Regions from separate parts of the Homo sapiens genome. Here region 1 is linked to region 2. A link means that fine-mapping ties the variant in region 2 to the expression of a gene that starts in the linked region. Tissue or cell type: whole blood. Region 2 holds a variant in brackets; the other region holds the start of a gene. All regions are shown on one strand. Distances are from middle to middle.

Evidence for each region. PIP is the estimated chance that this variant, and not a neighbour inherited with it, causes the effect.
Region 1: it holds the start of MCFD2, and the variant in region 2 is fine-mapped to the expression of MCFD2 in whole blood (TOPMed, PIP above 0.99).

Annotation. Positions count from the first base shown.
Region 1 is chr2:46,914,420-46,917,131 of GRCh38, reverse strand. MCFD2 (multiple coagulation factor deficiency 2, ER cargo receptor complex subunit) reads left to right here and starts at 1,326. Exons shown (of 4, transcript NM_139279.6): 1 at 1,326-1,409. It also overlaps a transcript of TTC7A not described here. RefSeq lists an enhancer at 282-1,256 and a silencer at 1,260-1,339.
Region 2 is chr2:46,953,296-46,955,795 of GRCh38, reverse strand. All of the region lies in intron 2 of TTC7A (tetratricopeptide repeat domain 7A), which reads right to left. Among named protein-coding and RNA genes, the nearest start is that of TTC7A, 13 kb to the right of the region's middle. RefSeq lists a silencer at 372-666. The variant G/A (reference allele first, on the strand shown) is at 994.

The DNA.
Region 1 (2,712 bases), 39 kb after region 2:
GGTGGCAGATTTCAATCTCAGATGAAGGTGGGAAAAGGAATGAGACCGTCAATGGCAGTGGCGTTAGGCAACTTTCAAGGCATCTAACTACTTAGCCACTTTCTTTGTCTTTCCTGTCCGGACCCAGGCTCATTTGAAAAACGATTATGTACCTTTATGGACAGAAATGGGAGAAGGGCTTTAAAAAAAACGACCGTCCTGCCGGGAGTGGTGGCTCACGCCTGTAATCCCAGCACTTTGGGAGGCTGAGGCGGGAGGATCAAGAGGTCAGCAGTTAGAGACCAGCCTGGCCAACACGGTGAAACCCCGTCTCTACTAAAAATACAAAAATTAGCCGGGCAAGGTGGCACGCGCCTGTAATCCCAGCTACTCGGGAGGCTGAGGTAGGAGAAGAGCTTGAACCTGGGAGGCGGAGGTTGCAGTGAGCCGAGATCCCACCACTGCACTCCAGCCTGGGACAGAGCGAGACTCCGTCTCAAAACAAAACAAAACAAAACAAAAAAACAAAACGACCGTCCTACACTCATTTATCCATCAGGTCAATGGATACTTACTGAATGTTAATCTTGTATAGGAGCACAGGTGTAAGGGCAGGATTATACAGGGATGAATTCGATACAGGGATGATGTATTCGTTTCCCTATTTGTTCATGAGTCTGTTTTTAAGTAATCTGTCCTCTCTTGAATGTCAAAAGCTGCTGATTTCACGAACGGTACATGGAAGATGGTATTTGAACTGGGTCGCATAGTCTTGCTGGGACTCCCGTGGAAGCGAACGGGGACAGCGGCTGCCGCAGCTTGTGCAGTGGAGCTGGCAGACGCTGGAAGCAGGCCAATCTTGAAACGTAGGGTCCAAGGCCGGCTCCAGCGTGTTGTGGTCGTTTCATCAAGAAGGAATTAGCATTCCTATTATCTTTCTTCCCAACTTGCAGCAGGACGAACCAAGAGACCTGAACCAAGAGCCCTGTATAGGAGGGGGTGAGCGGAGTTGGGAGCCAGCTTTGGGGTCCGCCCCATCCGGATCCGCCATCCTACGTCGCCCGTGGAACTACGTTCCTGAGGGCTTCCGGCGTTGCCTAGCAACTGCCGGGCCCCTAGGGCGTCCAGCGGCCCAACTGGAGTGGAGCCGAGTGTCGCCCTTGGGAAAGCAGGTAGAAGAACTGCGTCAGTCCCGCCAGTGCTGGGCCCGGGCCGATTACACGTGGACTCACGCGAGCCGTCCTCACAGCCCGCCGCCGCCAGCGGGAGGGGCCCGGCGGCGCCAATGGGCGGGCGGCAGGGAGCGCGCGTGCGCAGGGCAGGTCGGGGGGGGGGGGGGGGCGGGGCGAAGCCGAGGAAGAGCGTTTTGGGGACGGGGGCTGGTGAGGCTCACGTTGGAGGGCTTCGCGTCTGCTTCGGAGACCGTAAGGGTGAGTGAACTAGCGCACTCTCCGCAGCGGGCGGGATCCCGGCGCCTCTCCTGTGGGCTGGAGGCTTGGGCTCAAGATGAGAGGCAGGAGTAGTCTGGGGGCGCGGGCTGGGCCCCCAGGCCGTCTCGGGACGCTTAACCGGCTAGGAGCACGGCCTGTCTCCCGGGGCGGAAGCCTGTGCCCCACCGGGGGCTCTGGAGCCAGACGGGGCCGACTGGGCAGATCTCCGCCCCCTTCCCTGGTCCCTAGGGGCCCGAGGATCGGCCTGTGGGACCAGCTGTGTCGGGTGGACACTGCTCCTGGCCCGGCCCAAAAGCAGCGGGCCGGAAGCCTTACTCTCCCTCTGCTCCTTGTTCCCTCTCTCGGGGAGACCACAGGTCCTGTCGGGCCCGGCGGGGGAAGCTGATCTCCTGTTGTATTCCCTCTCTGGGCATGGCCATCCACCCGGGTGCCCAAGCCAGAATTGGGCATCATTCTCACTTGCTTCACTCCTTTACCCACCCACATCGAATCCCTTGCAAAGTTGTCTTGGATACGTTCATTCTCCAGTCCCATCCCCCTGCCCTACCTAGTTCAGGCCACCTTTTCTTCTCTGGACTACCTCGGTGTCTTCCTGATGATCCCTGCATCTCTTCTTCATCCTCTGTAGTTTGTTCTATACAGAGAGGCTACAGCCATGGTCTTAAAACAGAAATCTGATCATGTGACCAGAAGCGTCCCCCCATTCCCTTATCACCCTTTGGTGGATTCTCATTGCTCTTCCAAGCTCTTGAACGGGGCTTGCAAAGCCCTTCATGACCTGTCTTCCTTTAACTTTAGATTCATTTGTCTCGACTGTACTGTGTCTTCAACCATACTGAATCTTTTTTGGTTCTTAGATCAGAACAAGTTCCTTCTGGGCTTACATGTTCCTTCAGTATGTTCGCTATGTCTGAGGCACTGTCCTTTGGTTGAAATAATCCTTCTTATCCTTTATGTGTTATTTCAGGTGTCAGTTGGGGATTTCGTGGTACCCCATGGGTGTCTGCCTGCCGGTCTCTCTTTTCTACCAGGTTGTAATCTGTGTGAGAGGAGTTTGTCGAGGTCATAGTACTATCTTCAGTACCTTGTGCTGTTAGTACGGTCATTAAATGTATAAATGCAGCATGGGTGCTCCTTGGGCTCCCTAGATGAACAAATAGATCAAGTTATTAATATTAAATGCCTGCTTTTTCAGAACCAATTCTCAACCCTCAGTCCGTGTAGAGGTTTCTTTAGCTTAGGAAGTTGGTTATTTTCTTGCCTTCATTCCAGGACCATGACA
Region 2 (2,500 bases):
CTACCCCTGTCTCCCTGTAGGGAGGTAAGAGTCTGGGGTCCCTGTGACCCCAGGGCAAGCCTCCAGCACTCCTTACCATCTACTGCCCTCTCAGAAGCCAAGAGAAATGAAGCGTGGCACAGACAGGCTCTGGGGAAGCCAAATTCACCTTCCCAACTGGTCCTTCTGGCCTTTGTAAATCCACATTCCTCTTTTGCCTGTGCTTCCTCAGGTCCCCTTCCCCCTGGCCTAACCAGGTCCTCTTCTATCCTTTGGGGCCTTGCTCAGGCCCACCTTCTCCTGAAAGCCTCCTTGACTACCAGGGAGCTCCCTTCAGCTGAACTCCTCCAATGCCTCTACCAATGGGCCCATTCAGCCTCTGCACGCCTGACCTGCTCTCTCTATTAATTAACTCTCCAAAGCTGAATCTTTTGAGGGGATTTGCTAGTCTTCCCAGATAGGCCATCCACTCCCTGGGCCAGGGCCACAGATGACACATCCCAGAGGTATGTGGCCCACAGTCCTTCCAAGCTGGGCAGTGACTCTGCGTTCCCTGCACTGGTCTCAAGCCACGGGCTCATTTCCTCCCTGCTCGGGCTGCGTCTTCCTCGTGGGTGAGGGAGAGATAATAACACCTACTCCTCACTGCCTATCACAGCGATGCTGAAGGCATTAATAGGGCAAAGTCCAGAAAAGAGCTTTGAACTTTTCTTTGGAAAAGAGCAAGATAAATACAGGGTATGCGTATTTATCATTATCCTGCACATGGAGACAAGGGCAGTGAGGCAGAGAAGGACATTTCAGGCATGCTGATGGGGTGTGGCTAGTGGCGGTTCCTGGAGGACCAGTGGCAGTTTACAACAGAGCTTCCACCAAGCTGGGGAAAAATTAGACAATGCAGGGCATGTTTTATAAAGCCACATTTACACTATTTAAAAAAATGCTCGGCCGGGTACGGTGGCTCACGCCTGTAATCCCAGCACTTTGGGAGGTCGAGGCAGGCAGATCACCTAA[G/A]ATCAGGAATTTGAGACCAGCCTGGACAACATGGTAAAACCCGTCTCTACTAAAAATACAAAAATTATCCGGGCGTGGTGGTGGGCGCCTGTAATCCTAGCTACTTGGGAGGCTGAGGCAGAAGAATCGCTTGAACCCGGGAGGCGGAGGTTGCAGTGAGCCAAGATCGTGCCACTGTACTCCAGCCTGGGTGACAGAGCGAGACTCCGTTGTCTCAAAAAAAAAAAAAAAAAAAAGGCTCTTAGTTCTGAAAGGATATCTACCTTGCCCTTTCAATGCTAAACTGTTTTTCTGTTATAGCACAGTAAGAGCAGAAGATGGTATCATTTTGCTGCTATTTTTTGCTTCTTAATGTCCTTACTTGGCAACATTAAGAGTCCACTGCACTCTGTGGGGCCCATGCATTTGAATGTGAAATATTCTTGGTCTATCAGTACAACAGTCAGGGAACGGAACCCCTTGCCCAGTGGGAGGGTGCCACGGGGGAGGTCGCTTTACCAGAGGAACAATCCCCTCTACTGTGTGGATCAGCGCATCACCTACTCCTTTTGTGCCTCACTGTCCCTGTCAATAAAAGGGGAAAAAGGACTTCATGGAGATATCCAGGTATGAGGAAAGAACGGATGAGGAAATACTTCACAGACTAACGTGGGAACTATAAAAGTGGGGGTGTGATCACCATCTTTCACATGAATCCAACTTTCCCAGTCATTATTTTATTTCCACCCCAGTACTCTGGGAGGCAGTACCAAGAAATGAGAGACAGCATTAGAGCATGGGCTGTAGACACTAAAGGCCTGGGTTGTGATCACCTTTCTTGGGTCTCAAGAGATGGAGCTTGGCAGGGCACAGTGGCTCACACCTGTAATCCCAGCACTTTGGGAGACCAAGGCAAGAGGATCGCTTGAAACCCAGAATCTGAGACCAGCCTGAGAAACACAGTAAGAACTGTGTCTCTACAAAAAATTGAAAAAAAAAAAAAAGAAAGAAAGAAAGAAAAAGAAATGGGGCTAATAGTAAATACCGTTGCAGAAGGTTCCTTGGAGGCCTGCATGCGATGGTGCAAAGCCTCAACCTAGTAGCAGAACAGAGTTTAGGACAAGTGGCTTGTTTTCACTGATCTCCACACAACTGAGCTGGACGGGGTCTTAGAGAGATAACCAAGAGGAAAGGGTTTCAAGCTTTCCCAAGGAGGGGCCTCAGGACCCACCTCTCCCAGCTCTCCTTCTCATCCAGCAGAGCTACTTGGATGCACAGGAATCCACCTGAGACTGCATCAGCTGCCAAGAAAGGTCACGCCAACTGTGACCTGATCTTTGCGGGTGAGATAGAAAATACTACAAATGATGGCCGGGCATGGTGGCTCACGCCTGTAATCCTAGCACTTTGGGAGGCACAGGTGACAGGACTGCTTGATCCCAGGAGTTTAAGACCAGCCTGAGCAATATGACAAGACTTTGTCTCTACAAAAAAATTTAAAAATTAGCTGGGTGTGGTGGTGCATGCC